Regions from separate parts of the Homo sapiens genome. Here regions 1 and 2 are each linked to region 3. The links come from fine-mapping of genetic effects on gene expression. A gene starts in region 3. Each other region holds a variant in brackets. All regions are shown on one strand. Distances are from middle to middle. Region 1 overlaps STX2 (syntaxin 2). Region 2 overlaps STX2 (syntaxin 2). Region 3 holds the start of STX2 (syntaxin 2).

Region 1 (8,004 bases), 36 kb before region 3:
TGTACCACTGCACTCCAACCTGGGCAACAGAGCAAGACCCTGTCTCAAAAAAAAAAAAAAAAATAGGCATGGTGCCTGAGTTTTTCACACACATTCTCATTATAAAGTTCTTCAAAATACAGTGTTTCTTAACAAGGTTGCTGAAGCAGGCAGGAACAATCCTGTGTGTGGATGGATTCCTATCCTTACACAATCCAGGCAGTCTCAGAAAATAAGCCCATCAGATGTGAACCTACTTAGGGGATGACTCCAGCCAAAACAGATCCGAAACCAGGCTCAGGACAAGTGAGGAAACCATTTACTTAGGATGGTTTGATATAAATGCTTCCGCTTCACCTGGTGGTCAGCTGAATCCTAACCAGCAACAGAGTCTTATCTCCATGGTATTTGAAAAATAACGAGAAGACCTTATTCAAAGACAAAGAGCGAGTGTGAACATACCCATGCACATCACAGAGCATGTGATCTGTGATCCATCCCGTACTTTACATGGAGAGTTCAATATATACATACATACATATATATGTGTGTATTTTTTTTTTTTTTTTTTGGAGACAGGGTCTCACTCTGTCACCCAGGCTGGAGTGTAGTGGCATGATCATAGCTCACCACAGCCTTGAACTCATGGGCATAAACAATCCTCCCACCTCAGCCTCCCAGAGGAGTTTTCTATTTATTAAGAATTGCATTAACTCTTCGGTTCACTCAGAAGGGCCTTTCCACACCTGCTTTCACTCCCTATCTGTGTTACTGGGCAGATGGGAAACCCCGTGTAACAGGCACAAGCTTGCATCTGTGTCATAGATTGTATCCCCACTTGGGGTTGATTCTTTCAGACATTTCTCCTAGTTATTACTGTAATATATGCTTCTTATAGAAAATCTGAAAATAAATACTTTTAGAGAAGATTAAAATTCCCATAGTCTCACTGCCATTACACTGTTTGATATACGCCTTTCCTTCTGTGGATACTGTTTTATGGAGCCAAGCTCGTGCCATGTGTTTGTGTTTATGTACTCATACATATGTACGGGCATACACAGAAGATCTTTGTATCTCCCTTTTCTCTTAATTCTAGCACAAACATCTGCATATTTCAGTAAGAATTCTCCATGAACAAAGTTTAGGTTGCCTATGGTTGCCTAAAAGGCTGACCTATGAACACTCCATAATTTAATCAACTGAACCAGTCCCTTCCTGTTAACAGTTCAACTGTTAAAGCTGCTTCCAGCATTTCAGCATCACATATAACACTGCAATTAACCTGAATTTGGTGGATCCAAAATAACAGCTTTCCTAGATACATCCACTAGACAGAGTGGGATGCAGTAAGATTTTACACATGACTGATATCTCTCTTGGAGAATGCAAGAGTCTGTAACTACCTGAGTCTCCACAAACATAGCCATGTCCATGAACATCTCATGCAACTCTCGGATGCTGGTCTCCAGCTTCATGATGTCCTTGTGACGTGACTCGATTTCATTGAGAGCTTGTCTAGTAATTTGTGAATCTGATATAATCTTGGAAAAACAAAAATAAAAGATAATATTAATAAACTTATGATGGGTTTGGAAGTTAAAGGGTTTTTAAAAAGCTCTGTCTACAGAAGAGGACATGGAGCCACAGGGCCGCACCCCCACTCACGTCGGAAGTGAAGATGGATGGCTTCCCGCTCTCCAGCATCTCTTCTAGCTCGTCGTCTGTGGTGGTTCTCCCAGCTGAAAGACCCGCAACCACAGCCCCACTCAGAATGCAGCACAATTTAAAAACAAAGCCATTTGCAACCATAAGTTAGCAACTACAATCATAGTTGTTAGCATTTTTCAGTAATTTTTTTAACCTTTTCTTAAGCAGATATTGACAATGAGAAGTGAACCTAAGATTGAGGAGCAAGAAGAAATAAAAATACTCCGAGAAACTTTGTAAATGTTATAAACAATAAAATTTCATTTTAATATTAGTGAGAAACAACTGCAGAAAGGAAATCGGTAAACAATGTCTCGGCACACTGGTTTCCCTAAGAGTTTAACTCCGCCTCATGTAAAAGGGGGTTGAGCTGAATGTAGCATGTATTAAATGAGGATCAATAAAGTCCACGTAATGAGAGTCAGATGCCTGAACACTTTCCATGTTTGGAAGTTAATGCTTTCCTTTTGAGTTAAATGTGTAATGACTTCGAAGAAACATGTACACAGGTTTTGGAAACCTAATTGTTAATTACTATTTTTCATAGTTTGTGCCACAGAAGACAAAAGTAAATGAATAAATGTCATAATTCAAATGTCATCTAATAAGCAGCATTATTCATAATTGCCAAAAAGTGGAAACAACGCAAACGTCCGTCCCCCGATGCCTGAAGGAGCTAACTGCGGTCTAGCTGCACACTGACATACGACTCAGCCACAAAAACAAAGGACGCTTTTGGTTTTTGTCGCTTTGTTTTTTGAGACAGGGTCTCACTCTGTCGCCCAGCCTGGAGTGCAGGGGCACCGTCGCAGCTCACTGCAACCTCTTCCTCCCGGGTTCAAGCAATTCTCATGCCTCTGACCCCTGAGTGGTGGGGACTACACGCGTGCGTCACCACGCCCGGCTAATTTTTGTATTTTTAGTAGAGGTGGGGTTTCACCATTTTGGCCAGGCTGGTCTCGAACTCCTGACCTCAAGTGATCTGCCCACCTCAGCCTCCCAAAGTGCTCGGATTGCAGGTGTGAGCCACCGTACCCAGCCCTTTTTATTTTTTTAACAAAGATACGGTCTCACTCTGTCACCCAGACTGGAGTGTAGTGGTGCAATCTCAGCTCACTGCCGCTTTGACCTCCTAGGCTCAAGCAATCCTCCTGCTCCAGCCTCCCAAGTGACTGTGATTATAGGCACACACCCATGCCTGGTTTATTTTTATTTTTTTTTACAGAGATGGGGTTTTGCTATGTTGTCAAGCTGGTCTTGAACTCCTGGCCTCAAGCGATCCTTCCACCTTGGCTTCCCAACCAACACGCTGGGATTAGTATACATGTGAGCCACCACACCCTGCCCACCCCATGGTGAAACCTTGGAAAAACTGTGTTACAGGAAAGAAGTCAGTCACAGAACACATAGTGTATAATTCCATTTATATGAAACATCCAAAATGGGAAAATGTACAGGAGTAAAAAGTAGAATGCAGTTGTCTTGGGCTAGGAGAGGAAATGGGGAATGACTGGTGGTGGGTGTGAAGTTTCTTTTTGGGTTGATAAAAGTGTTTTAAATTGATTGTGTGTGGAAATACACCAAAAACCACTGAATTAATTGTATGCTCCAAATATCATTCACATATTAAGAGATTTACTTCTCAATAAAGTTGTTGAGATGTCATTTAATGAAAAAAGTTTTAAAGTTAGTAAATTGCAAAATTTGTTTACTTACACTATTTTTTGGGAGGTAATTCTCAATCATTTAAAAATCTATTTGAGAGCACACATGGTGGTTTACATGTATAATCCCAGTGCTTTGGGAGACCAAGGTGGAAGGATTGCTTGAGGCTAGGAGTTTGAGACTAGCCTGGGCAACACAGCAAGACCCTATCTCTACAAAAAATAAAATAAAACTTAAAAATCTATTCAAAATAGCTCAATAAGGAGATTCTCTGAGTTTTGCTTTGCTTTTTTAAAAACATGAAACTTGTTCTAAATAATGTAAAATATAATCATCAAAACTAGAAATTTCAGCTTGGGCAACATAGTGAAAACCTCGTCTCTACAAAAAATAAAATTAGCCAGGTATGGTGGTGTGCTTCTGTGGTCCCAGCTACTCGAGAGGCTGAGGTGGGAGGATCCCTTGGATCCAGGAGTTCAAGGCCACAATAAGTGGTTATCACAACACTGCACTCCAGCCTGGGTGACAGCGTGAGGCTCTCTCTCAAAAAAAAAAAAAAAAAAAAAAACAAACTAAAAGTTACAGTTCATGTCTCACGTTCACAAAGGTCTTCCCACCGGCTAACTGCTAAGTCTAAGAAACAGCCTGGGGTTACAGAATGTGAAATGCAGTATACATTCGTAATTCCTTATCCAGAATGCTGAAATCCACAACATTATGAAAACTGGGTTTTCCTTAAGCTCGATGTCAAAATTCAATGAGCGGCAAAATCTGACCTAAACTGAGTCATGGCTATTTATAATCTTAACTCCTCCCCCTTACTGTGAATACTCACATTTCACTGGAGAGCTGTGTGAATGTGCCTGATTACAGGGTGCAGTCCTAGACCCCACCTGGGGATTACATAATACACCTCTTATACATTGTACTATCTTCCTAAAATCTGAAAAATTCTGAACTCTGAAACACATACAGCCCCAACCATTCCAGAGAAAGCACTGTGGACCTATGTAACATGCCCTGGTCCAAGAAGAAACTCACTTGCCATTTGAAGAAACAAAGCATACAGCACAGGAAAAGATATCCTGTGATACAAGGTAAGAAACCTGCCTGATGACAGGGCTGACGGAAGGAAGAAAGAAAGGGGACAAAATGGTTTTAGGTGCAAGGATTTGGAGAAGACCACTGTATGAAGACAGCCCGCTGTGTGGCCAGAGTGACGCCATCCTGAAGCAAAACCACCGTGATGACCGATGCTCGACTCGTGCATGCCAAGCTGTTCTGCAATGAGGTCTGAAGACGATGCCTCCGGCACAGGCAACCTCTCATCAAGATGCTCATCCAGCCTGACCAGTGGTCCCAAGTGTTGTCAAGCAAGTCAGAAGACAGGGCCGGCTGCACACGTTCTACCCTGAAAGCCTGCTGTATAAAGAACACTTT[C/G]TGAGGGCAGGCGGCTGTGGGGTCCACCGTCTCTGTCTCTCGGGGGCTTCTGTTCGTACGTCCCTAGCCAATGTTTCCTTCGAGAAACTGGATTTGTTAGCCTCTTTCTTTGGCGTCTCAGCTCGCTCAGCCTTTGGGGGTGAGTTTGCATAGACCTGCTCACTTCGGAATAGCCACATGGAGGGTTTAGAATTTAACAGACTTAAAGGAATTACTAAAAAAAACTCCCAACACGTATATGATACTTCATTGCTTATAAGACACTTTCACAAACAGTACTGCATTCGATAGAGTATGATTGCAAGAGAAGAAACTGGAAATGAATTCTGTGGGCTGAGATAGAATAATGTGGGAAAGAGAGAAGAGACTTAGGCGATCTGATCACGCCACCGGATTCACATGGGGAGTGAAGACAGGATGGACCTGCAGGAGAGATGGTGCGGGGCCTTCAAGCCCAGGCTGGGGAACTCTGTGCTAGAAAAGCGCTCACCACAGAGTCCCAGAGCATAAATCCTCACAGTGCAACCGGCTGCCTGTAATGATGACTTTCACTTTAAAAAGTACTAACAGATCCCTGAAGTCAAAGTGGTTTGTAAAAACTTTTTCATAGAAAAGCAGTCTAGTCGACATCATGATTGAGCATTTCTGCCAGGATGGAGCAACAGGGACCGTATTTTCCCTGCCACTTGAAATAACCACAAACCCACCAAAATCTACAAAACGATTTCCAAGACACTGAGCATCAGGCCACACACTGATTCCCAACAGATGGAAACAAGCCAGGTGAGCCTGCTGCTGCCCTCAGACGGAACTCTCGTGTCAGCCACAGAGCAGAAAGGGCCCAGGTGGAGCCCAGGGGAAGTCCTAAGGCAAAGGCACAGAGCTCAGGGGAGACCAAGGCAACTGGATTTGCAAGATGGAGTATGAGAGATGAGAGAGATGCAGAGAGCGAGCTGCACAGACCCCGCATGCTCACTGGAGTGCTGACCAGCATGCCAGAGGGAACACGCTGCCAGGCAGACGAGGGTGCCATGAGGTTCACGGCCATCAGAGCAGGTGCTCAGAAGGGTCTTACCTCAGGAGTGAGGAATGACAGGCCCTCAAATAAAGCTGCTCTGCTCCCTCTAAATGCAAGATCCCAAAGGCTAAACCATGCTCATGTGATTTAACTACATTCTAAAACAAAGCCCAAGGAGATTTACAAAAATACTCAAAATACAGAAATACTCAGCACCCAACAAAGTAACGTTCACAATGTCTGGCACACACTCGAAACTTACCAGGCTCGCAAAGAAGCAGGAAAACACAAGCCACAGAAAGGAAGGAAATCAACCAACCAGAGCAGACAGGACACTGGAGTTGGCAGACAAAGACGGTTCAAGTTACTACAAGTGCGTCCCAGTTGTACAGTGGGGAGCAACACAGCAGACATGTAAAACACCCAGCAGAACTAGCAACAGAAACCAGTGTCTCCGATGAAACATACACCAGAGGAGGTTAAAGGCAGATCAGACAAGCAAGAGAAACTGACCAAAACCAAACACACTGGAAAAGAGTATCTAAAACATGAGGAGCCTCGCTGAGCTGTGGGACAAGGTCAAGCGGCCTGGCGGGCATATGACAACATTCTCTGAGGGGGATGTGCGGCGTTGGGAGCCGGGATGGGCCTGAGGCTTCATCTGACCTGCGAGCTGACACGCTGGCCTGCCAGGGCTCCGTGGGGGCCGGCAGAAGGTCCAAGGCCCCAGGTCAGGGACAAAGGGATTTCCTACTCACAGCACAGCAGGCAACCTGAGGCTCATGAGCAGCTGTCCACGGCCCCCAGTCTCATGGGGAGAGGCAGAGCAGCTGCAGTGGGACGTCCTCACAGTGGGTTTGTGTCACAGCTGAAGGACCCGAGCTTGGGAACCCCAATCTTTCACAATGGGGAGTCTACAAACCTGACCAACCTTTATCCCTGAAACAGACCCGTCTGTCCCCGAAGAAGGCGCCATCTCCACTGCCACAGCCAACTGTCCCCATAGACACCCCTGAAAAGAGTCTGGGGCAATAGGGCCGCTGCCTCTGCTCACAGACAAGGAGAGATGTGAGGAGCCATGAAGATGCCCCCGAACCAGGGCAGGGCGGGACTGAGGACACAGAAACACTCAAAGAGGAAATGACTGAGCACTCTCCCAATCTCCCTGAAACTCTAAAAGCAACAGCAATGAGCAAGGTAAACCCCACCGCTTAGGACTTCCTGAAGACAGGAAGAACAGGTTTGCCTGACTCACGGCATAGGAAGCTACGAGTGGTCTTTGGGTTTTACACTATTGGTGAAAATAGACATGGATTTCCTTTTCTGAAGTTAAAGTCATTTGAAGTGAGACCTTAAGGGAGAAAAACATGATTTTAACAAAGACGGAGTCTCCATTACTCACTTATCTCCAGCTGGCGCTGGATGCGGCCTTTGCTCCGCTCCCGAAACAGAGTCTGTGCCTCATTGTACTCCGCCATGGCTTCCACAAACTTCCGAGACAGCACCGAATGCTAACAACACAGGAAAACTACATTCGTATCTGAGGGCCATGCCTTCTACTGAAAGTGACATGCAAGACATGCATTTTGGAAACTCAAACTACATGTTATTCTGCTCCTGCAAATGGAAAATGACAATGGCAAAGTCCCCATGGCAGCATCTGTGCTAAGAACTTTGCATGCATGATCTTACCTAATTTTTACAAGACCCCTACTATGCCGGTCACAACCCTACTTAAAGAAAACCATGACTTTGAGGTCATTAGCCCAAGGTCACAGGCTTTTCTGATAAACACAGATCAGCACTGGGACCCAGGCAGGTGGACCCCAGAGCCCGCGTGCTTCATCGCCTTGTGCCCATGAGGGGACCCAGGCAAGCGGACCCCAGAGCCCGCGTGCTTCATCGCCTTGTGCCCATGAGGGGACCCAGGCAGGCGGACCCCAGAGCCTGCGTGCTTCATCGCCTTGTGCCCATGAGGGGACCCAGGCAGGCGGACCCCAGAGCCCGCGTGCTTCATCGCCTCGTGCCCTCGAGGCCTCAGGGCTCTGTCTTCCTCTGGGCAGTACCACAAACCACTAAAACGTGGCGGCCTTACCACAAACACTAAAATCATTTGGATAATTCCCTACTCTTTGGAATAGAACTCTGTTGATGGACCGAATAGATTTTTCTTCACAATAAAGAGATTTCTA
Region 2 (8,004 bases), 26 kb before region 3:
TTAAATTTAAAAAAATTAATCCCTAAACTTCAAAGAAAAAATAAAGCAAACCTAACAGTAAGTCAAGTTAATGATATAAACATACAGAGGAGCCGGGTGCAGTGGCTCACGCCTGTAATCCTAGCACTTTGGGAGGCTAAGGCAGGCGGATCACTTGAGGCCAGGGGTTCGAGACCAGCGTGGCCAACATGGTGAAACCCTGTCTCTACTACAAATACAAAAATTAGCTGGGTGTGGTGGCGGGTGCCTGTAATCCCAGCTACTCGGGAGGCTGAGGCAGGAGAATTGCTTGAACTCAGGAGGCGGAGGTTGCAGTGAGCCGAGATAGTGCCATTGCACTCCAGCCTAGGCGACAAGAGCGAAACTCCATCTCAAAAAAATAAACACACAGAGGAAAAACTATTCAAAGCAACTTTAAAACCCAGTAATTTGTAGCTGGACACAGTGGCGTGTACCTGTAGTCACAAGTGCTCGGGGGATCACTTCAGCCTAGGAGTTCGAGGCTGTAGTGCGCTATGATCACACTGGTGAACAGTCACTGCACTCCAGCCTGGCCAGCACAGCAAGACCCCAGGTCAAACAACAACAACAACAACAAAAAGTAATTTGATTATCTAGCCCAGTGGGATATACCTATAGACAAAAAGAATGACACAAAAAATAAAAAATAAACCTTTAAGTAATCATACTCTTGACAGTAGATGCTGGCATAATTATTTTGAGTCTGTTGTGTGTGTACTATGAATAGCAAGTGAATAATTATGTGTCAGTGAGAACCAGAATTTGGGGCATAGTTGAAAGGAAATAAAGATGTAATATTGCCCTTATTAAGTAAAAATCCTTTCAAAAAAATTTTTAGTCCTTCCTTTATTCTTAATTTAATTTGGATTCTCAGTAACAAATCATGATTCATTTTATCTTTTAAAAAAATCTTAGCCCAGTCCACTGAAAAAGCCTAGGAAAGAATGGTCAGGTCATCGTCATGTATAGCAATACATTCCCCAGCATGCTGACCTCGGTGTCTAGATCACATTCTTCAGACACAGGAGCAGGGCTTCCTGGGGAAATGGCTGATGCCAGGCCCAGGGAGGAAAGGGGTGAAATGAGCATGGGGACTTTTGTCACAGCAAAAAGTGGAAAGGCTGTCACAGACAATGAGGGGCCTACCAAAAGGACTCAAGAGTCCACCCTACTAGCCAAAGAGACCATCTGAGCATTAAGGATAATGCAGCAATGAAAACATCAGATGTGTTTAAATCCATGTGTTCACGATGATGGACGACAAGCAGCAACAGAGACTCTCCCTGGTCATCTCTGGAGGACCCCAGGGAACTGACCTATGAAAATTATACCAGAGAGAGAGAGAGTCCAACGCTGATCCTCTCTGTCCTCCATGATCTGTGACCCAGAATGTGCTTTGGCTCCCTTGGTTGGAGAAGCCAGGTCATTCGTCCTACAGAACCTGCCACACTGCACATTTTGCTGATTTCACCCTGCAACACATTCAGTAAGCTCTGCTGTCCTCTGTATTTACTGTGGGCTCATAGTTAAATTCTCCAAACTACCCAATTCAAGAGTTGAAGGGGAAAGGTTTCTTTTTAACTATTCCAGCAACTAAACAAAGAAGGAAGAATAAAATCAGGATATTCATGCTTGTAATCCCAGCACTTTGGGAGGCTGAGACTGGCGGATCATTTGAGGTCAGGAGTTTGAGACCAGCCTGGCCAACATGGCGAAACCCCATCTCTACTAAAAATACAAAAATTAGCCAGGCGTGGTGGCGGGCGCCTGTAGTCCCAGCTACTCAGGAGGCTGAGGCAGGAGAGTCGCTTGAGTCCAGGAGGTGGAGGTTGCAGTGAGCCGAGATTGTGCCACTGCACTTCAACCTGGGTGACAGAGTGAGACTCTGTCTCAAAAAAAAAAAAAAAAAATCAGGATATTACTGCTTGCAACTTCTAATGAATTATGGATCTTGGAAATAATCATCCATTTTTGACAATATCACAGAATAGAAAAGAATGTTATATCTTATTTAAAATTTTACTGAACTTACTTAGAGCCAAGAAAAAATGTTAATGTCACCATTAACATCTTTTTTTTTTTTTTTTTTTTTGAGATGGAATCTTGCTCTGTCGCCCAGGCTGGAGTGCAGTGGCGTGATCTCGGCTCACTGCAAGCTCTGCCTCCTGGGTTCACGCCATTCTCCTGCCTCAGCCTCCTGAGTAGCTGGGACTACAGGCACCCGCCACTGCGCCCAGCTAATTTTTTGTATTTTTAGTAGAGACGGGGTTTCACCGTGTTAGCCAGGATAAGTCTCGATCTCCTGACCTTGTGATCCACCCGCCTCGGCCTCCCAAAGTGCTGGGATTATAGGCGTGAGCCACCGTGCCAGGCCACCATTAACATCTTAACGTAACCATGAGGACATAAAATCTGTAATCAGATGCTGCATCTTTACATTTTAAAAACCCACAAAAAACACCTGAATCAGATAAAGCTTGGAGAATTTAACTACCAACCTACAGCAAATTCAGAGGACGGCAGAGCCTATTAAATGTGCTGCAGAGGTAAAATCAGCAAAATCTGCAGCATGGCAGATTCTGTAGGACAAATGACCTGGTTTCACCAACCAAAGGAAAAAGTGCAGAGAGAAAAATCATGAAGGGAGAATCTCATTTTTAAAAGCCAGGGTTTGGTCCTTATTTGGGACTCAATTCAAGCAAACTGTTTAAAAAAAAAAAATCGTAAGACCACTGGGGAAATTCTGCCTGGATATTCTGTACTATTAAGTAATTATAATGAATTTGGGTTTAGATATAATTGTGGTTGTGCTTTTGGGGAAGCTTCTGTTTTTGAAATACACACTGATGAAATCTCAGATGCCTGGGATGGGCTTCAGAATAGTCTGGGAGCGGGTGCGGGTGGGAGCTCATGGAGAACTGTGGAGCTGGGGGGTCGGCTTGTGGTCGCCTCTCTCTGCTTCTGCACACATCTGAAACCTGCCGTAATAAAAGTATTTTATCATCTGCACAGAGATTGTTTTTGATCTTGATGCCATTCTGCAAAAATCAAATACAACATGTTTTCTACCAAATCGAGAAAAAGCAACCTCTGTTTAAGTCCCCTGTTTTACATGACAAAGCTATAAGCCTCCCAAAAAACTACTGCTGCTAAAGTGGAATGCCAAACATCATCGAATAAATTCTACAGAAAGTTTGAAAGAAATGAGCAATTAAAGGGTCCATTCA[A/G]GAAGAGCCTGGCAACTCACCTTCCCAAACATCTGCAACTTAGCCTGAAATGTCATCAAAAATGTAACAGTATAACAGTTTATAAGCAAACACATAACCTTTTTGAATATTAATTAGTACTCTGAATTACATACAAATAATTTATTTTAAAGCAGTCACTATTTTAATTTTTAAAAATGTAAAAGAACAAAAACCAATAAAGAAAAAAATAACAAATACCCATACTCCCAACATCAATAATTAAACATAAAACTTCAAACTTACCCTTTAACTTGGCTCGAATTTTATTCGCAGTTTTCTTGATTTCTTTGTTCAGATCTTCAAGCTCTTCTTTTATTTCTATAAAAATTTAAAATTAAAAAATAAAATACAGCATCTGAGCTATAATATCCAACATAAATGATATCCAATAAATTTAAGTGAAACAGTATCCTTAGTAAATATTCACTTTTTTTCTGTAAGAAAAACTACCGCTTATACCAGTGGTTCTCAAGGTGGGTCCCTAGACAGCAGCTTTCATAAATATCAGGTGGCAGCTTAGTAGAAACACAAATCCCTGGGGCCCACCCTGGACCTACTCAGAAACTGAGGTGGGGACAGTGGCCCAGCAATCTGAGTTAGCAAACCCTCCAGGTGACACAAGTTTGAGACTTGCTGCTCTATACCCATGAATGAAACTGCTGCCTAAATCCACTGCTAACACCTAGACCTGGGAAAGGAAAACGGAGACGTAACGATGATCTCAACAAAGTCTCCCGTGTGTGTGCTTTTCTCTTGTGCTGTCAGCTGTCTCCCCAAAACGCCCGAATAATCACAGCCACCACTTCAGGGCTGCTGGGCCGGTCGCCCTGGCCTGGCTTCTCAGACACTCAGGGCTGCAAGCAGGGGGCGATGGAGGCAGGGGCCGGCCTCCTAACACGGAGGGAGGCCAGCAGAGCAGGAGCTGACACTCCAGGGCAGTGCTGAGACCTAAGGCCACCCAGGGCGTCATAGCAGCCTCTGCTTTCATGCCTAGCTGCCCCAGAGCCCAGGGAGGGTGGCAGGATGTCTGCTCCATGCCGCACACTCACATTTGCCAGTCCAGTGGCTGAAGTGACCAGAAGGGAAGGGGGTTTCTCTCTCCTTTGGGCAGAAGTTGCTGAAACAGGAAGGCCCCCGCCCCGTCTCTGGAGTCCTGTTGTCGTTTTAGAGAGTCCTGCACTTGCCTCTCTCACTCAATCTCACACGCATCAGCCGGGGAAAAGGCAAACGTTTCTGCCGTAGACAACTTGGCCAAGAATGAAAGCTTTCAGAGATGCCCACTCTCTTCCTGACACCCCCTCAGCTGAGCATACGCAGGGTGCCCCGAGTACCCACTGCACACAAGCGTGTGCTAAGTCTTCTTTCCATGCTCAGCTACAGTCATCAGACGCAGCCTGGCTCGTCCAGGGTTTCAGAGCCAGATCAGAGACTGAGTGATCTCCAGAGGTGACAGGTCACGCACCAGTGACACCTACTGAGTACTTTCTGTGTGCAGGCCCGTGTCATCTAAGGAGGCTAACAAGACCGCCAGGGACCTAACAACTCGGTAAAAACAGACAAGACAAACCCAGGAAGCGCCAATGCCACGCAGAGACTAACAACGGACGAGACAGGGTTCACAAAATGCCATGGGCAGCGAGGAGGAGAAGCGTCTGCTGCAGCTGTCCCACAGGAGGGGACATCTGACCTGGGAGTGGAGAGACTGGTGGCTTCCATTCCAGGCAGAAGAAGGGTCTATGGCACAGAGCAGCGGGACGGTGGGCTGTAGTGACTGGCGTGGGAGGAGGCCAACTACAGGCTGCCTGGGCAGGAGTGTGCAGGCCCAGCTGAGTTTGGGGCTTTTACTGAGGGCACCAGTCAGCACTGAAGGTTTCTCAGCAAAGAAAGGCATCAGCAAAGATGCATTAGAAAGACTTTTTTTTTTTTTTTTTTTTTTTTTTGAGACAGAGTCTTGCTCTTGTCACCCAGGCTGGAGTGCAGTGGCACAATCTCGACTCGTTGCAACTTCCGCCTCCTGGGTTCAAGCGATTCTCCTGCCTCAGCCTCCCAAGTAGCTGGGATTACAGGCCTCCGCCACCACACCCAGCTAATTTTTGTATTTTTAGTAGAGATGGGGTTTCGCCATATTGGCCAGGCTGGTCTTGAGCTCCTGACCTCGAGATCCGCCCACCTCAGCCTCCCAAAGTGCTGGGATTACAGGCGTGAGCCACTGCATCCAGCCTAAAAAGATTATTTTTAAGCAAGGCACAGTGGCGTGCACCTGTAGTCCCAGCTACTTCAGAGGCTGAGGCAGGAGGATCACTTAAGCCTAGGACTTTAAGGCCAACCTGGGCAACTAGCAACATGCCATCTCTATTTAAAAAAGGAAAGAAAAAGAAAAAACAAAGAAAAATTATTCTGATAATGGATGAAACTAGAAAAAAAGAGAAACTAGACACAAAGGGGTCATTTCGTGATTCTCCTCTGTGAACATGTTTCTAAAGGGAGATTCTCAGGGGAATCTTTCTACCACCCCAAGGGGTATTCTGAAATTTGTGGGGTATTTCCAGTCATCATAAAAAAGGGAGAGCCACTGGCATCCAGAAGACATAAGCCAGGAATGGCACCAGCCAGCACCACACAACAAAGAACTGGCCTCCATCCTCCTGTAGTTCCTGAGCGTGACGACGGGGTGTTCGTGCGCGTGTGAGATGTGCCACCCTCGAACCTCATTACATCAGCACATCACCCACTGGCCTGCATAACTGCCAGATGCACGCTGCTCACTCAGGCAGGAGAAAAGACCTGTTTTCCTGAGCCCAGAACCTGACTCCAGCTTACAAATAAGCCCTGTTTTCATCTGCATCGTTTCAATATCCAGTGGATTTTCAGGAATGCAACTGCCGTGTCACCGCTCTGCATGGCGAGAAAGCTGTACTTCAGTCTATTTCAGTGACACCTACTGCCTCAGGAAAAGCACAGGGAAGCCTGCTAACGGCAGCTGAATCACAGCACCTCATCAGCTTGCAGCCTTGGCTGTGACAGTCACAGCACTTGTTTGTAGGGGGGCAAGCGCCTGAATTTTGTTTTCTGGTGTTGTGCCTGAGCCTGCACAATACAATTTGTACTTCAATATGTAAGTTACTTCCATTTTATGTCTCCTTCATATTAGTTTGGATATTATATGTTTTTTTAAAATCATGGAGGTAGGTAGGCTATATCATCTATGAACTTCATTTTAGAATAGTAAAGGGAACACAAAATGCCTTATAAAATGGGGCATTTGACAGGAATTAGAGAGACTTGCTATGAATAAAGAGGGTGGCAGGTCCATAGTTTGTGGCAGGGGTGCTGGCTCCTGTGGTGCGTGAGGCTGATGCAAACACCCCCAAGGCCTGGCCACTGTGCCTGGGGAATGAGGGCTGAGTGTAGGAGTCGAAGCTAAAACGTACACACAGCAAGGGCATTTGTGCAGGGGTCCGGCCCAGCCAGCGCCTGAGCACAGCTGAGGACGACTAGACTCGGGAGACGGTCTTGAGCCACCGCGCAGCCACAGAAACCACAAGATCTGAGAGCTGGGCCTGCCAGTGGATGAGAGTCTCCCTCTTGAGCTGGCGGGCCACAGCAGGACTCACTCCCCTGGGGAAAGAAAGCCCTTGGCCGTTACACAGCAGGGGTGGGGGGCACTCATGACGGAGTGAACTTGCTGCCACTACAGGCCCACGGGGCTTGAGCAACTCATCAGCAAAACAAAAGAGGCACTGCCTGTCTGATCCTGCAAGCTGCAGACGCAGGCCATAAGGTCACATTTGATAAAGGTGGTATTTCAAATCAGAGACCAGACGGGGATCAGGAACCTCCTCTTCCAGCGGCCTAGGTGATTCAGCTCAATCCTGCTGCTGAGAACAATTAGAAAGGGTAGACACAATACTCTTTCTAAATCTGTGTAAAGCCATTAGAAACCTAACAAGGTGCGAAAATAAATAAAATAAAATAATTAAAAAAAGAAATAAAAACAAAAGAAACCTAACAAGGCAGGAAAGAAGACTCAGAAGAAGAAAACCCAAAGACATGGGCCCCACTTTTGCAGCCACTTTTACCTGGGGGCATGTGCCAACTCCATAAAAGGCAGCTGAGCTGCAGAGAAGCTGAGAAAACTGTGCTGACTTGGAGAGACAATGCCCTAGGAGGAACAGTCAGGTGGGAAGCTGGCCCTCGCAGGGGCTGAAGCCTCAGTCTAAATCATCTCAATCCCTAAAATTAGATCCAGAATTGCTGGTGCTTCTAGCCATCTGCCAGAAATAAAAATAAATCATCTCTTTAAAAAGAAAATACCATTCAGGACTCAAATTATTACTGCAAATAATTCCAATACAAAGCTCAAAACTCAATCAAAAATAACCAGGCAAACAAAGAAAAAAAAAAACACATGAATGAAAACCCAACAAAAAGAGACAACACTAACCCATCCACAGAGGCACCAGCTAATAAAGTTACAAGACACAGACGTTAAAACAATTACATTCAAAGAGATAAAATGTAAGATCATAAATTTTGTCAGAGAATAGGACAGTATTAAAAGGAACCAAGTGGAATTCTAGGAGTTAAAACCAATCCAAAAATAATTCCATAGATGAAGAAAGATTCCCTGACCTGAAAGACAATCGCTGAAGAGAAATCAAACGATAAGTCAGGGAAAACATTTTCAAAATAAAATATATAGAGAAAAAATGATGAAAAATAGAGAACAAAAGAG
Region 3 (8,004 bases):
AGAGATTTGCAATTCATCACCTTGAAACCAGGATGAAAAATAACGTTCTCATTTCTTTTAGGTCTACTAAGAACACCACACAGCTACTGTGTATTTATTGTTTATTATCATGCAAACAATTCCCACAGATGAAATGTGTGGTTTCTCTATTCTTCACTATAATAAATAGATATATCATATATATGTATCAAATATAAATACATCAATGTTCATAAACTTTTTTTAAAAAGTAATCAAAATACGTTTGGGGTGGTTATCTTATAGAATAGCTATTCCATTTTGCTTACGTCCTACAGTGAATTTCATTACACCTCGGTCACTCTTCCTTCCCAGGCTGCATGCATCCCCACCCACGCTCAGTTCACTGCTGTGTCTCTCTGCACCCAGCACATGATCTGCTAGAGGCCTGACATTCAAGTACCTGCTGGATGGGCGAGTCTTTTACTTTCTGTAAATCAGAAATATCTTTCTGGATTTAGAGTGTCAGAGATCTGGACCAAGTCACGCAAACTTTCTATGCCCAAATGACTGGTTGCTCAAAAACAGCATCACTGGTTAGAAACTACATCTGTCAGTACAGATTGTATTGAGCAGATTACTCTTTAAGCCCTGTCCACGTAACTGTCAGAGGCACGTTCTTCACAGGAACAAGCATCAGCAGCTAAGAAAAGAAACTTCATGGAAGCATCACAAATACTTTGTTAATCAGACATTGTTGATGAGGCATTTTAACCAACAAAATATTCAACTTTACCTAGAAAAAAACACCAGCCATTTACAAGCACGGTTGTGAGTACACATTCAACTACTCTAAGAACTACTGGGAAAGGACACATTTCCTGGGGCGGGGCGGGGGAGGGGAATTAAACTTGTATCTGGTAACTTTAAGATGGGTTTTTAAATATTAAAAGTTATTAAACTTCAAATTCAGTTTTAACTTACTATTTTATACTAGGGAGAAGGTTGTTCTTTTCTCTTTTTTTGAGACAGGGTCTCAATCTGTCTGTTGCCCAGGCTGGAGGGCAGTGGCAAAATCTTGGCTCACTGCAACCTCCGCCTCCTGGACTCAAGCAATCTTCCCACCTCAGCCTCCTGAGTAGCTGGAACCACAGGCATGCACCACTACACCTGGCTGAGTTTTTGTATGTTTTTTGTAAAGACAGGGTTTTGCCATGTTGCCCAGGCTGGTCTTGAACTCCTGAGCTCAAATGATCTGCCCACCTCAGCCTCCCAAAGTGCTGGGACTACAAGTGAAAGCCACTGTGCCCAGCCAGAAGGCTGCTTTTTATAACTCCCTAAAAACAAAAAATCTGGTAAACATTAATCACACTTATAATTACATAGCACTTGCTCCCTCCCACCTTCTCCCAGAGCTTCACACATTAGATAATTTTATGCTTCATAACTCCCTCTATGAGGTGGACAAGAGAGATACCACTGTCCCCATTTCACGTACAAGAAAAAGTTTTGAGAGATTTAAAAATTATTTGCCCAAGATGAGAAACTCCATGAGTGGAAACTTCCACGGATATACTCTCTGACTGCTCAGCTGCTGTGTCTAAAGCAGGATGGTATTGAAGTAGATGAGCTGACTTCTAGCTCTGCCGTTCTAGAACAAAACTGATTGACATGTTCTACTGTTTCAGGAAGGGTTTGGATATATAGAAACTGAGTGACAAATAATTGCCTTATTTGCTTTTTGCTATTCAAGCCAAGAAAACGTACTTTCTCACGATTCCCCAACATATAAATTTGGCTGTATTTTGCCAAAATAGTCACAGCTCTCACGTTCAATGACATTGAGCTTTTTTTTTTTTTTTTTATGAGACAATGTCTCACTCTGTCACCCAGGCGGGAGTGCAGTGGCATGGCACAATCATGGCTCACTGCAGCCTCTATCTCCTGGGCTCAAGGAATCCTCCTAGCTTAGCCTCCTGAGTACCAAGGACTACAGGTGCGAGTCACACCTGGATAGTTTTTTTGTGCGTGCTTTGTTTTGTTGGTTTTTCTGAAACAGAGTCTCTTTCTGTTGCCCAGACTGGAGTACAGTGGCACAATCTCGGCTTTCTGCAACCTCCGCCTCCTGGATTCAAGCGATGCTCCTGCCGCAGCCTCCAGAGTAGCTGGGACTACAGGTGTGCGCCATGACATCCGGCTATTTTAGTAGAAACGGGGTTTTGCCATGTTGGCCAGGCTAGTCTCCAACTCCTGACCTCAAGTGGTCCACCCAACTCGGCCTCCCAAAGTGCTGGGATTACAGGCATGAGCCACTGCGACTGGCCTCCTGCTAATTTTTTAATTTTTTTCGAGAAACAGTGTCTCCCTGTGTTGCCCAAGCTGGTCTCCAATACCTGGGCTCAAGTGATGCCCCCACCCTGATCTCCCAGACTGCTGGGATTACAGGAGTGAGCCACAGCTTTTCTTCATTAAATAAATACCTGAGCTCCTACTACACGGCACTGAAAGATAATCCATCGGGCAAGACAACACAACTATAATTTGCTGTGTTTAAGATGATATTGATCTGCGGAACACAGGGAATATTTGTCCATTAATAAAAAAGGAAAAATCACCGTGAAGAAACTTCCTTGGAATGAATATAAAGCATAATTTCCATGATCCTAAGGATGAAATCATTGCCTTTCTCAACCAGAGCTCCTCATCTGAACCACAGAACACAGATAATGATTTAAGTGGCTCTTTTCTCTATTCTCCCACTCGGGGGTACATAACAGCTCCATTCTAGCAGCAGAGGAGAGAGAATAATTCATTACATGCAGTGGGTGTCGTAGGGCTGTGGGCCTTAGCACCCCTGTTCTGAGGCTGCCAACAATTTAGAGACCAGAGGCTCTATCTGTGCACACACGTAGCATGAATTAGTACCTGTATTGTAAAGGGAAAAAGTCATAACTACTTCTGCTGGCCTAAGCCGTCCTGGGTTAGACAAGCTTGGAAAGTGCACGACCATCACTATCATTCCGCTGTCACTGCACCATGCACAGTCCTGTCACCTTTACACGTGTAGAATGCATCGAAATCCTTCCAAAATTTTTAGTGACCTGCTTTTCCCTTGCTAAAGTAAACAGTAACTTGCTGTGTGCCCGGCTGCTGGGCGCGTAAGGTGCGTTCAGAGTCAACACACGGTCCCAGTTTCCAAAGCAAACTACTGGGAGATCAGACACAAGCTGCTGTTCGCGCTCGCCCCACCCCAAGCACCCAGCACTCTAAGGTGCCCACATTTCACACCCATCTGTTGCCTCCCGCTTGGTGCACAGTCCTTTGTGAAGCCCCAGGGATAAAGCAGCGACCAAGAGGACCCGGCCTGCTCCCCGGGGCTGACGCCAGCTGCGGGGACCCCGTGGGGCGGACCACAGTTAGGCCAGTGGGCTCCGGCTGGGTAAGCGCCAGATACAATCCGCCAAGCGGAGTGACGGACAGGGAGCCACGCTCGAAGAGGGGGTCGAGGCCGGGACCTTCCCCGCTCCCTCCTCCTGCCCCAACCCGCCCTGAGGACTCCGCCCAGGAAGCCCTGGGGACCCCGCCCGGAGCCCCCACCCTAGGACTCCCGGGACCCCCGCCCTGGGGACCCCACCAGCAGTCCCCGCTCAGGACTCCCTGAGACCCTGCCCGCAGCCCCCGCCCCAGAACGCCGGAGATCCCCGCCCTGGGGACCCTCCCGGAGCCCCGCCCAAGACGCCCCGAGCCCCCGCCCGCCCTCCAGACGCCGCCCCGGCCGGGCCTGAACCGCTACCCGCGGCTGCCGCTCACCGCCGTCAGGTCTGGCAGCCGGTCCCGCATCCCCGCCGGCCGGGCAGCGCGCCCCGCCGCTCAAGCCTGTCCCGAGCTGCCTCCGGCCGGGCCTCGGGCTCTCCGGTCTCCGCCTCAGGCCCCGCGGTCCCGGCCCGGCGCCAGCAGCCCTCCCTGGAGCCGGCGCTGCCACGGCAACCGCGCCCCGCGCGCTCTGCGCATGCCCGGCCCGCGCCGCGCCCCGCACCCACCCACACGGCGGCAGCGCTTTCCAGCGGGAGCCCGGAGGGGCGGGGCCTGGGGGCGGGGCCTAGGCGGGGAGGGGCGGGGTCCGGCCGAGCCCCAGGCTGGCAGTTCCGCTACACGTGCTGTTTGTCCCTTGATCTGCTTTTATGCTTTCACACTCATTGTTTTATTTATCAAAATATAGAGCATTCAACGAATAGTGACAAAAGAGCAAAGCTCCCGGAATGTGCTGGGTGCAGCTTTGGGTAATACATATGCCGAACCTTCTCTTTAAGGGTCCACGCGCAGCCTCGGGTGTGAATGAAGGAGAAGAGATCGTGTACCACACATGATGCTTACGGAGCATAACACGGCAGGGGGCGGTAACGGGAAGAGCGTCCGCAGGCCCAGCCCTGGGATACCATTCTGGCAGGAGAAACAGGCAATACAGACACAGACAAATAAATGATAGATGAGAAAAGAAAGTAAGGGCATGGGCACGGAACTGGCAGAGAGGTCGTCATGAAGGTGCAGGAGCTTAGGTGAACTACCCAGGTTGGGGGAACAGTCCCCAAGACCATTATCACCTCTGACACCAACGGCAAATTCTGGCGGTTTCCAAAACCACCTTCAAGTTCCATAATTTGCTAGAAGGAATCACAGAATACACTAAAAACTACTGTACTCACAACTATGGTTTCTTAGCAGGAAAATGATACGGATTAACATCAGCCAAGGAAGAAGGGCAGAGGGGGAGTCTGGGGATTACGGCGTGCAGCTTCAAGGTCCTCCCGTGGTCCTCTCCCTGTGTAGTCAGGCCTCATTACTTGCCCTGCACTGATGTGTGGCCTTACACACGAAGTACTGCCAGCCAGGGAAGCTCACTTGAGCCACAGTGTGCAGAACGTTTACTGGGCTCCATTGCATGTGCATGATTGATTGATTGTTTGATTGCTTTCATGCTTGATCTCAGCCTCTTGGTTAAGTGATATCCATGTAACCCTAAGCCCCCACCATAAATCACACTGTTACTCTCTGGCTAGCCGAAGACTCCCAGGCAAACAAAGATTGCCTTCCAGGAGGAGAAGGCAAGGCCAGATTTGTTTTTAAACAAGGTTAAAGTCTTTACTGCCTCCTGGAGGAGGTGGCTTTGGTCTGACCAGAAGGCAGCGCTAAGAAATCTGCTTGAGAGCAACAGGCTACACATTAAAAAACAGGACGTTTTGGACTTGGTTCTAGGTGTGATGTGGTTCTGTTACCCGATGGAAGGTCTTGACAGCCAGTTGTCCAGGTGAGTGTGGTGGCGGGCACCTGTAATCCCAGCTACTCAGGAGGCTGATGCATGAGAATTGCTTGAACCCGGGAGGTGGAGCTTGCAGTGAGCCAAGATCGCACCACTGCACTCCAGCCTGGACAGTAAAGCGAGACTCCGTCTCCAAAAAAAAAAAAAAGATATGTTTTTTCTCTCCATATCCTGAACTTCCCCACCAGAATGCCTCCTGGACCCCGCAACAGGCAAGTGCTTTTCTTTCGGCCTTCTTGCCTCTGCCACCACCATTTTAATTCTCCCTCTCTGGTAAATACTGGGCCCTCCCTCGTTTCTCCCTCTCTCCCAGTGGATTTTTCAAAAACATATGATAATATTGGCAGCAGCTGGATGGTGTTGAATTGGCAACCAAAACTTTTTGTTTGTTTGTTTGTTTGTTTGAGACAGAGTCTTATTCTGTCTCCCAGACTGGAGTGCAGTGGCATGGTCATAGTCCACTGCCGCCTTGAACTCCTGGGCTCAAGTAATCCTCCCACCTCAGCCTCCAAAAGCACAGGGACCACAGACATGAGCCCACCATGCCCAACCTCAAAACTTTCCTTATCCTGCCAGAGAAAAAAAATGAAGTTGTGAATAATCGTTGTGGGAATTCAGGGACCCTGAATGGAGGGACCGGCTGAAGCCATGGAAGAAGAACATAAATTATGAAGATTTCATGGACATTTATTAGTTCCCCAAATTAATACTTTTATAATTTCTTATGCCTGTCTTTACTGTAATCTCTGAACATAAATTGTGAAGATTTCATGGACACTTATCACTTCCCCAGTCAATACCCTTGTGATTTCCTAGGCCTGTCTTTACTTTAATCTCTTAATCCCATCATCTTCGTAAGCTGAGGAGGATGTATGTCGCCTCAGGACCCTGTGATGATTTTGTTAACTGCACAAATTGTTTGTAGAGCATGTGTGTTTGAACAATATGAAATCTGGGCACCTAGAAAAAAGAACAGGATAACAGCAATGTTCAGGGAACAAGAGAGATAACCTTAAACTCTGACTGCCGGTGAGCCAGGCGGAACAGAGCCGTATTTCTCTTCTTTCAAAAGCAAATGGGAGAAATATTGCTGAATTCTTTTTCTCAGCAAGGAACATCCCTGAGAAAGAGAAAGCATCCCTGAGGGTAGGCCTCTGAAATGGCCGCTTTGGGGGTGGCTGGGCATGGTGGCATGTGCCTGTAGACTACTCAGGAGGCTGAGGCAGGAGGATTGCTTGAGCCCAGGAGGTTAAGGCTGAAGTGAGCTGTGACTGTGCCACTGCACTCCAGCCTGGGCAACAGAGTGAGACCCTGTCTAAAAAAATATATATATACACATACACACATGCACTATAAATATATAGTATATACATACTATACACACACATATAGTGTATACATGCTATATACACACATATAGTACATACAAGCTATATGTATATACAGATCGCAGCTGTAGGGATGAAATAAGCCCCAGTCTCCTGTAGCCCTCCCAGGCTTATTAGGACGAGGAAATTCCCGCCTAATAAATTTTGGTCAGACCAGTTGTCTGCTCTCAAACCCTGTTTCCTGATAAGATGTTATCAATGACAGTGCCTGCCCGAAACTTCATTAGCAATTCTAATTTCTCCCCGGTCCTGTGGTCCTGTGATCTCGCCCTGCCTCCATTTACCTTGTGATATTCTATTACCTTGTGAAGCATGTGATCTCTGTGACCCACACCCTATTTGTACACTCCCTCCCCTTTTGAAAATCGCTTATAAAAACTTGCTAGTTTTATGGCTCAGGGGGCATCACGGAACCTGCCGACATGTGATGTCTCCCCCAGACACCCAGCTTTAAAATTTCTCTCTTTTGTACTCTGTCCCTTTATTTCTCAGACCGGCCAACACTTAGGGGAAATAGAAAATAACCTACGTGAAATATTGGGGATGAATTTTGCCCAATATCTGGCTGAATTTCCCCTGATAAATAATAATGTGTAATTTATCATTTTTGTTCATATTACATACATACATATGCAGTCAAGGTGTTTTTGGGGTCAAAACATCAACCAGATCACAACAGTGCGTTCAAAACACCATCATAACAGCCAAACACTAAAATTGAATGAAATCTACATGGAGGCTGAGGTGGGAGGATTGCTTGAGCCCAGGAGTTGGAGGCTGCAGTAAGCTGTGATCATGCAACTGCTCTCCAGCCGGGTCCACAGAGCAAGACCCTGTTTCTAAAAAATAAATAAATAAATAAATAAATGTTTAAAAAACTTAAAGAAGAAAACGCGAAAGAGGCAGAGGAAGAGGAAGAAGGAAAAAAGAGAGGAAGAAGGAAAAAAGAAGGAAGAAAGAAAAAAGGAAGGAAGGAGAAAAAAGGAAAAAGAAAGGAAGGAAGGAAGGAGAAAGGAAATATGGAAGAAAGAAAGAAAGAAGAAGGAAGGAAGGAAGGAAGGAAGAAAGAAAGAAAGAAAGAAAGAAAGAAAGAAAGAAAGAAAGAAAGAAAGAAAGAAAGAAAGAAAAGAGAAACAAAGGGCTAAGTTACATTCCCGAGAAAATCTGACTGGAGCCTGGGCAACATAGCAAAACACTGTCTCTGCAAAAAATTTTTAAAAATTAGCTGGGCATGGTGGCATGTGCCTGTAGGTTACTCAGGAGGCTGACGCAGGAGGATTGCTTGAGCCCAGGAGGTCAAGGCTGAAGTGAGCTGTGATTGTGCCACTGCACTCCAGCCTG

Evidence for each region.
Region 1: its variant is fine-mapped to the expression of STX2 in whole blood (TOPMed, PIP above 0.99).
Region 2: its variant is fine-mapped to the expression of STX2 in whole blood (INTERVAL, PIP 0.92).

The regions. Positions count from the first base shown.
Region 1 is chr12:130,799,768-130,807,771 of GRCh38, forward strand. It overlaps STX2 (syntaxin 2), which reads right to left. Exons shown (of 11, transcript NM_194356.4): 6 at 7,215-7,323; 7 at 1,648-1,721; 8 at 1,386-1,523. Among named protein-coding and RNA genes, the nearest start is that of STX2, 35 kb to the right of the region's middle. RefSeq lists an enhancer at 6,127-7,049. The variant C/G (reference allele first, on the strand shown) is at 4,795.
Region 2 is chr12:130,809,445-130,817,448 of GRCh38, forward strand. It overlaps STX2 (syntaxin 2), which reads right to left. Exons shown (of 11, transcript NM_194356.4): 4 at 3,513-3,587. It also overlaps the pseudogene LOC124903117. Among named protein-coding and RNA genes, the nearest start is that of STX2, 26 kb to the right of the region's middle. RefSeq lists a silencer at 2,239-2,422 and an enhancer at 4,425-4,664. The variant A/G (reference allele first, on the strand shown) is at 3,249.
Region 3 is chr12:130,835,302-130,843,305 of GRCh38, forward strand. It overlaps STX2 (syntaxin 2), which reads right to left and starts at 3,949. Exons shown (of 11, transcript NM_194356.4): 1 at 3,769-3,949. The coding sequence starts at 3,798. RefSeq lists silencers at 3,513-3,572, 3,643-4,152.